3 linked regions of the Homo sapiens genome follow. The protein of the gene in region 2 purifies or fractionates together with the protein of the main gene of each other region. This does not show direct contact. Each region holds a gene or a part of one and is shown on either strand. Other genes may lie near its edges.

Region 1 (3,662 bases), on a different chromosome or scaffold from region 2:
AATGTAATTGGACTGTTAGTGGTGGGAAATAAATCCCATGATAAAAGACAAAAACTTTACAGAAATAATTTACATAAATAAAAATTATGAAAATTTACTGAGAGAATTGAATTTTACACAGCCACTGTGGATAACAACATGACAGTACCTAGTAGACTTGAAGCTTTAAGAGCAAGGATTAGACTTTCATTATTTCACAGAGGAAAAAAAATATCGCTGCACTTCTCATTGTAACTTTATAAATAAATTATCAATAGTATATTCCAATTTTGGATAACATTTTCAGACCAATGGACTTAAAGTATATAGCTCTGACACTAAAATGGCATATTCAATTTTTAACAGACAATGAAGTAACTGGCCCCAGATCACATAATGAAATAGGTCAAAGCCAAGAATAGAAACCATGCCTTTTCTGAATCCAGTATTTTTCCCCATATACCATCTAGCCTTTTTTTTTCAAACGAAATAGTTCAAGATTCTATGCAAAAGCAATCCTGGAAAATGATAAAATATATAGTATTTTTACTTATGAGAAAAAATAATGGAATCATGAAAACAGATTATCATCTATGAAGAGCCAGTTGACAGTAGTATTTAAATAATAAGAATAAAAATTAAAATCTAGCATGCCACTTCAGCAATGAAAATATCTGCACTGTAGCCACATGGGGCTATGGGAGCCCTTGAAATACAGCTAATAAGACTGAGAAACTGAATTTATTTTATTTTATTTCACTTTAATTAATTTAAATTTAAATAGCTAAATGTTACTAATGGCTAACCTATTGATAGTGCAGAGTTAGAATGCATTTTAAAACAGTAATAAGTGGCTCACTAAATCAGAGCAAGCATATTAAAATAGTAAGAAATGTCAAATAATTGGAGAGCACTACTTAATGAAAAAAATACCTTTATATTCATCAGGATATTTCTCATATTCCATACAAAATGTAAGAAATTTCATTAGCATTCGCTTTTCTACCATAGTAAGTTGTTTGCTATTAAAGACATCTGCTCTGGAACACGGAACCTGAAAAATATTATGATTTTAAGTTAAGAAACTGCTTCCTAATGATATAACTATTCCAAATTACACTTTTTTCCCCTTTACATATAACAGGATTATCGTTTCCACTCTAGCCAGGCTTTTTCACATCACCGTCCATCAGTACTAATGGCATCTCTGCTAACTTCAGAGCTAATTGTGAGCTTTCTTACTTAATTCTGCCAAGTTACTCCCCATGCCATTAAAAGGCCAACGGCATGTCATCCTAACAGAGAAAAATTTAGCAGTGCTATCTAAAACAAACACTGTGGTTCTCCCTATGTACATGTTAGTACATTTTTATGCCTTTTCTCCAATTAATCTGCCTTTGTGAGTTGATTTTTCAGTGAAACTTCAGAGGCTTAAGAGGGAGTGTTTCCCTTGGCCCCTACAGTTTTGGTGCTGTGAGCAGGATAGCAAAGCTCTGCTCTTCTGGAAGCTGCAGTGAAGAACCCAGGATCTGATCAGCTGTCATAAGGGTAAGAATTTTTTCCCAACCAGGCTCCGGGCCTCCTCCTCTGTGTGGAATCTGATCAAGTGGACAGCAAAAATCACCGTTTCTTTCTTTTCCCTCTCCAAAATCTTGATTAATGGGAGAAAAGGATTTGTGTGACTAGTCTTGGGTATAGTAACTCTGGTGTGCTTTTTGGTTTTTTGTGTGCTGCTTGGTACCAACACCAAGCTGCAGAGTAAGCCATGAGAAAATTAGCACTAGAAATTTTAATTAAGCATTTACATTTGTAAATCACCACGGAGGACTGGAATTTACTGCTTTATGAGGAAAATAACAATCTTATTTGCTTATCTTTCCAAAACAAACCATAATAACTTAAGCTGATGCCCAGTTACAATTCTTGATCAGCACAGTACCTGTTCCACTCGTCCTTCTCGAAATGCAAGAATCCTGGTAATATTTTTAAACTCTGCATATCGACTAACATTAGATTTGATTAGAAGATCAATTAGTAATCCTCGAGAATACAGCAGCTGTACAAAGAAAATATTTTACAAGATAAAAGTTGAAATAGTAGAAAAATTGGAAAACAATAAAGATACATAATTTTGCTATATTTTTTATTATTTGTAGAAACAATCATACCTATAAATATTATAATACATAACACAATCTATTACAGGCTCAGAATTGATTAGCTGAAATTCAAAATTCAAAAAACTTTGCAATCCATAAGTTTTTACAAAACATGTTTAGCAGCAAAACCTGATCCATACTGATAAGGCACTCTGGCTTTGTTTGTCCAAATTAACATAAATATTCATATATTTCACTGCAGAAATAATGTGTTTAGTTAGAGTTCCTCCTCAGACCCTGCTAATAATTTAACCTAACATATAACATATCAGTATATGTACTTCATTACTTTCTAAAATATATTTTTTTAATCTTAATGATAGAATACACCAGGCCCTGAGGGTTTTGGATAAGAATCTATAGTCTTACACAAAGCCAGGTAGTTATAAGAAGAAATCAGTCCAGTGAACCTCCCTACCCCATCAAAAAAAGAAAAAAATATTTGTGATGCATTTACACTGAAAAAGTCAAATTATAAGGTACTTCTGTAATTCTAGAAGTCTGGGTTTATATGAGATATGTCTTTCTCAAAAAGTGAAGATGATGATTATTGCTGGCATGTATGGGAGAAATTGATTTAATCTTTCAACATCTCATAAGTAATATCAGAGAGATAAAATCAATAATGTAAACAGTATTATCTAGCATGTTAACCGTATGGTTAAATGCAACAGATTTGACTATTTCCTATATTAAGATACTCTTAATGCCTATAACTCAATAAATATTAAAAATGAATGTTACATCTATAATAAATAAATGGGAAAATTAGCTTTACTATACAAAGAAAAAGGAATCTCAAAAATCAATCTAAACCATTAGTCTGAGCAACTAATAAGTCAGTAAAGACTATCAGTAAATCAATACCATTCAAGTAAAATTTTATAAACTAATAGTTCAGCATTCTGCAAAACAAAATTGACATCACTTTTTTGAAGCTAATCTGATCATCCTGATTAAATATGGCACGTTACTTCATTACCCTCTTCCTAACACACTACATTACTGAAAGAGACCATGTTTTAAAGAATATATTGCCAATTCTTAACTCTATAATAATGATAAAAAATAGTTACTTCAAAAATCACTTGTTTAAAAAGATACACATTTGAGACTCAAGGATCCCTGCATAGCCATAATAATGTCACAAACATTAAGATATAAAATATGAAACTGCATTTTTATTTAATAAGATCCAATAAACCTTAAGGTTTAATGCCAGCTTGAAAAATAATGCATTTAAGATATCACAAGAACAAAAACAAATTTCAATTAAAATTATACTAGATTTTTGTTTCTGAAGCTCACAAATAATAAATGTGTACATATCAGAATCTAAGCCTCTTTTTCTTTTTTTTTTATTGAGACAGAGTCTCTCTGCTGCTCAGGCTGGAGTGCAGTGGCTCAATCTCAGCTCACTGCAACCTCTGTCTCCTAGGTTCAAGCGATTCTCCTGCCTCAGCCTCCCGAGTAGCTGGCATTACAGGAATGCAATGCCACGCCCAGCTAATTTTTTGTATTTTT
Region 2 (2,450 bases):
AACACGGCCTCTGAACCTTCGCTTGTTTTGTTCGTTTGCTTGTTTTTTTCTTTTTTTTGTCGGGGCAGGATGGATTTTTGCTCTTTGCCCAGGCTGGAGTGTGGTGGCTCGATCTCAGCTTACTGCAACCTCCGCCTTCCAGGTTCAGGCAATTCTCCTGCCTCAGCCTCCCGAGTAGCTGGGATTACAGGTGCCTGCCACCACACCCGCTAATTTTTGTAATTTTTAGTAGAGACAGGATTTCACAATGTTGTCCAGGTTGATCTCGAACTCCTGGGCTCAAGTGATCCTCCTGCCTCAGCCTCCCAAAGTGCTGGGATTACAGGCGTGAGCCACTGCACCTGGCCTGTTTGATTTTTTTCCACCACCACCCCTAACCTTTGCTTTTTAAACCTGCCGGTCCACCTGGACACTTCACAGGGTCAGACCAGGTCTAGCCCTTGCTGGCACTGGGGACACAGAGACCCCCTGGCCCCAGTTCCTGGGGATGGGCCCTGCCTTAACTCTTGGCGCTGCGGGGAGGCGGGTAGCCTCAGGGACCTGGAGCCTTTTGGCTTCTGGGAGTTTACCTCTGAGGGAGGAGGGCGCTTCTGATCTTAGGGAGCGAGAGGCCGGGGCTGGCTGTGACCAGATGTGGGTCCTGGCTGGGTGCGCAGCCCCTGTCCTTGTTACCCCTGATGTGATGGGGGCGCTGTGGGGGTCTGGAGAGGGCCTCTGGAGTCCTGCAGGGAGGGGTTCCCCTCGGCAGGCAGGGCACGTGCTGGCTCACCCCACGTCCCCCTGTACCCCCTTTGCAGAGATCTACCGCATCGTGTCACAGAAACAGATCGCAGACCGCGCTGCCCACGACGAGTCCCCGGGGAACAACGTGGTGGACATCAGCGTGCCGCCCACCACGGACGGACAGAAGCCCAACAAGCTGCAGTGCTGCCAGAACCTGTGACCCCTGCGCCTCCACCCAGCGTGCGTGCACGTCCTCCGCCCGCCCCCGCCACGGTATCCTCTGGCCCCTCCCTGCTGTCCCTCTGTGGCCGGCTCGTTCCAGCCCTCCCAGTGAGCTCTGCACGGCCGGGCCGGGGCCCAGGAAGGACAGGAGCCAGTGCTACCCCGTCCTGCCCGGGGAAAAGCTAGAAGCCCCGGTTTGCTGCACCCATGAAACTCGGGTCCCCACAGCGTCTTGGCGGGGTGGGGAGGGCGGCAGGATGGACGGGGCTGGCCAGAGGCGAGGAGGACGGGCGGACGGCGCCGCCTTCTCCCCTTTTCCTTGGCCGACTCTAGGGAGCGATTGCCTCCCTCCCTCCGTGACCGGGTGGCCCAGCCAGCCCGTCGTCCCCACCCAGAACCGTGCTCTGGGCCAAAGCCCGAAGAACCAGGCAGCGGGGGCCGGGGCAGGCGGACCCCCCGGGCTCTCAGCGCCCACCCGCTCCTCCGCACACAGCAGCTCGCACAGGCCTCCCACCTCTGCCTGTTGATTGATGCAGGGAGAAGCCCGTCCCCCCCTCTCCCCTCTCCCCTCCCCTCTCCTGCACGCAACGCGCCCTCTCGGCCCTCCCTGTCCCCCTCCTCTGTCTCGTCTCCCCATCTGGTCTGGAACCTGTTTGCAAGTGAAGCAATATCTCCGTGTTTTGTATATACAACCGCTCTTGTAGCCTTTGGTTTTTGTTAATGTAGAGAAACACAGATTCTTTATACACTTTGTAAGATTTACGCCAAACCCCAGCTCTCGATCTCTTCTTCTCCCTGTGGCCCCTGCGCTGTTGCCCCGTCCCCGTCACCCCGCCCGTTACTGAAATGTATAATCTGACTTCCTGTACAGAAACCTGCCGCTGCGCCTCTGTCTTCTTTCTTTTCCGCCAGGCGCCAGCTCCTAGGCTGAGGCCCCTCTCGCTGCACGTTCCCCAATGCAGGCCAGACCCCCCGTCTCCCCAGCCCACCCCACAGGAAGCGAGAGGACCCCAGCACCTGCCAAGGGCAGCGTGGAAGTCAGCCAGCGCAGTTGGGGTGGGCCCTGGTCAAGCTGCCCCTGTGGCAGGGAGGGATGGAAGGCTGCCGCTTGTCCTTGACTTTAAACTCCTGGGTCCTAGGACCTCAGGCCTGCGGGCGTCCCCTGATGGGGATGGGAGCCAAGAGCAGTGGCCAGGGTTCATCACTTTGTCTCCTGCCAGGGCCTCCCCTCCCCTGGGGTCCTGACGAGGGTGACTTGCCCAGTGGATGTTGGTGATGCCAGATGTCTCCACCCTAAACTGACACCGGAGGAGGGCCCAGTGGGGAAATGCCAGGGACAGCAAAATGTGTGGCATGGAGTTCCTCTTCCCAGGATCCAGCGTCTCCCTCCACCTCACCCCTGCAGTGACCTTGGGACCAGTGTGAGCTGCCAGCAGCTGTCCAAAAGCTCCAGCCTCTAGCTGAAGAGGCCACCCACACCCTGAAGACCCTGGGGACCCATGAGA
Region 3 (2,480 bases), on a different chromosome or scaffold from region 2:
TGTCTCAGCTTCCCCTGCTGGGAGAAATGAGGGAGGGAGCTTATTTTGTCAAAATATGGGTATGTGAGGGGACACCGGGAATCTGTTCAGAGAACCTAAGTAAGCCACGGCAAGGAGGCAGCACTGGAGAAACCTACACAGCTCTAGCCACCCAGCCCGGGGTGAGCTTGAGTGTGTTTCTGTGTTTTGCGCCTTGAGGGAAAATAAAGGGGTTGGGAGGGTGGAGGGCAGAGGGACAGTGCCCGAGTGCTCTGAAGTAAGGCTTCCCGCAGCCTCTTGCAGGCGGAAGGAGGATGCTGCTAAGGACACACAAAAGGCCTCCACATGCTCCCCATTGCCCATCCTTCCACAGTGCAACCTCCAGCCACAGCCCGGCCCCTAGCCTTGCCATGCTCACTTGTCCTGGTAGCCTGGCATTTTACCCCCAGGCTTGCTTTTATGTGTCCATATCATTACAGGTGTCCATGGCAGTCCTAACCCATCCTCTGGCCAAGACAAGGCAATCTCAGTCTTATCAAAATTTGGGATGTCAGCCCCAAATTCTTGGGGGTCAAGAAAGCAAATGCTTCAGCTGCAAGAAAGTCCTCTCTCTTTGCTGTCTCATTCTAAGCTCAAAGAAGGGTCAACATGAGAGCCAAGCCATTTGTGTTTCTGTTGATTTATTAGCGAGTGATGGAAACGCAGCTGGACCCATACAGAACACACGTGTAGCTGGCACACACCTCGAGAACCGCCCCCCCACCCCCATCCCCTGAATTCAGTGGTTCATTCCCAGAGTTTTCCCGCTGTGAGCTGCCTTGGTGGATCCAGCCCCTTAGCCCCCTCTCCTGCAGCAGAGCAGGATGTGGAAACGCTGACCAAAGGCCAACAGAGAGCCTGAGACCAATCCAGAGGAGAGGCAGCGTTCTCTCCTCCTGCAGAGAGAAGTCCCAGGGCCAATGAAGCAACCTTCTCCAGACACCTAATATTAACCATCACAAGGTGGATCACCATAGTCAACCATGTGTATTATGGGAACTACTTTTCACCCTTGTACCCAGTCTCCCTAGTACCCAACAATCCCCCAGATACTTTCGTCTCCAAGAAATTCCAGGAGGATTCTGGACAAGGCTGGATTTCTGCATGTCAGATCATGGGGAGTTTATAAGGCTAAGGGACAACTCTCATTGCTTCCACATGCATCTAGAAGCTCCTACTATGTGACAGCTCACGCTGGGTGAGGGTCAACATCTGGGCAGGAGCTTGGCCGGGTGAAAGATGGTTCCGCCCTGATCTAAGTGGATCCACAGCTCCCTTTTTATGGGGGAGGCTTTAGGAAGAATCTCTCCTGCCTGTCCTGCGTGGAGTGGTCTGGTTTTAGGGTTGTTCCTCTGCAGAGAGGAAGCAATTGGACCAAAGCAGAATCATGGATCCTTCCTCTGTTAGGATGCACAGGACAAGATGGCTGATGAGATACGTGGATGTTTCTAGACCCCAATGTGGATTTGTCCCCAAATGGATGATTTCAGAGTGAGAAGGGGACATCTCCATGGGTTGTGTTGAATCACAGGAGAGGCTATAAGAAATGAGGTCCTTCTTTTTGGGGGGCCGAGAAGATTCAAGTCTGAGAACCACATGGGTTGCAGGTGAGGCATGGACACTTCCAGGGAAAAGGCTTCTGAGAGGGACGGTCACCCTCAGTGTTCCATCTGGAGCCTTGGGGTCTCTTGGTGCTTATCGTTCAGGGGCCTGTCTCTGTCTCCACCACCTGGGCCAATGCCCGCCCCAGGGGGACAGGATGGTGGGTGGGAGCTGTCTCAGGGCACCATGTTCCACCACTTGAAAGAGAAGGGCTTTCTGCACACATTGGTGCCACAGTGCACCTCCCCATGCAGCATGTGGTATGGAGTGAAGTCATCAATGAAGGTGCAGTGGAGGCCCAGCGGCTCCAGCAGGGACCGCACCTTCTCCTCCAGGCAGCAGCAGCCATTGATGATGGGCCCAAAGGGCTTGGGGATGCCCAGGTGCTTCCCCAGCACCAGCATGTTCACCTGCAGTCCAAAGGGGAAGCAGCACTTCATCACTGGGCTCCCACCCCACACCTCTACTCTACCTGCAGGACCTAGGTTTGTGTTTTAGACAGCCTTGTCAATAGCTACTCACCCTTTCCTGTGCAATGAGAAGGTAACTGGCTAAAGGGGCTGGGAAGAACCGGTTAGCCAGGTGCCTTTGGGAGCATCCGCAGAACTCACTCTGGCAACGTGCTCTGGAAACTGCCCTAATGTGAATTTGGAATTGTGGATTGTGGCAGCTGCCATGTTTGTGCTGCAGAATCCCAACCTTCTAGGCCATAACTGATTGGGCCAGGGAGAACAGCTGGTCCAAGATGGACCAATCAGAGTCCCTCTCCCAGGAATTTGAAACTGACAATGGGAGCGTCTAGTTGGTCTCTGCCCGTGTCAGTGTCTCTGTGCATGGCCATACTCATCTTTGTCCCCAGG

What was found.
Region 1: the proteins of RAB11B (region 2) and CHM purify together in Homo sapiens (affinity purification with mass spectrometry; 4 studies listed by BioGRID and IntAct, with this or other methods). This does not show direct contact.
Region 3: the proteins of RAB11B (region 2) and PADI3 purify together in Homo sapiens (affinity purification with mass spectrometry; 2 studies listed by BioGRID and IntAct, with this or other methods). This does not show direct contact.

What each region holds. Positions count from the first base shown.
Region 1 is NC_000023.11:85,956,943-85,960,604, forward strand, and holds part of CHM (rab proteins geranylgeranyltransferase component A 1), read right to left. Parts: intron 2,036-3,662; coding exon 1,919-2,035; intron 1,034-1,918; coding exon 913-1,033; intron 1-912. UniProt on the Homo sapiens protein: Substrate-binding subunit of the Rab geranylgeranyltransferase (GGTase) complex.
Region 2 is NC_000019.10:8,402,616-8,405,065, forward strand, and holds the end of RAB11B (ras-related protein Rab-11B), read left to right. Parts: intron 1-797; coding exon 798-943; 3' UTR 944-1,819; downstream 1,820-2,450. UniProt on the Homo sapiens protein: The small GTPases Rab are key regulators of intracellular membrane trafficking, from the formation of transport vesicles to their fusion with membranes.
Region 3 is NC_000001.11:17,282,396-17,284,875, reverse strand, and holds the end of PADI3 (protein-arginine deiminase type-3), read right to left. Parts: intron 2,031-2,480; coding exon 1,797-2,030; 3' UTR 643-1,796; downstream 1-642. UniProt on the Homo sapiens protein: Catalyzes the deimination of arginine residues of proteins.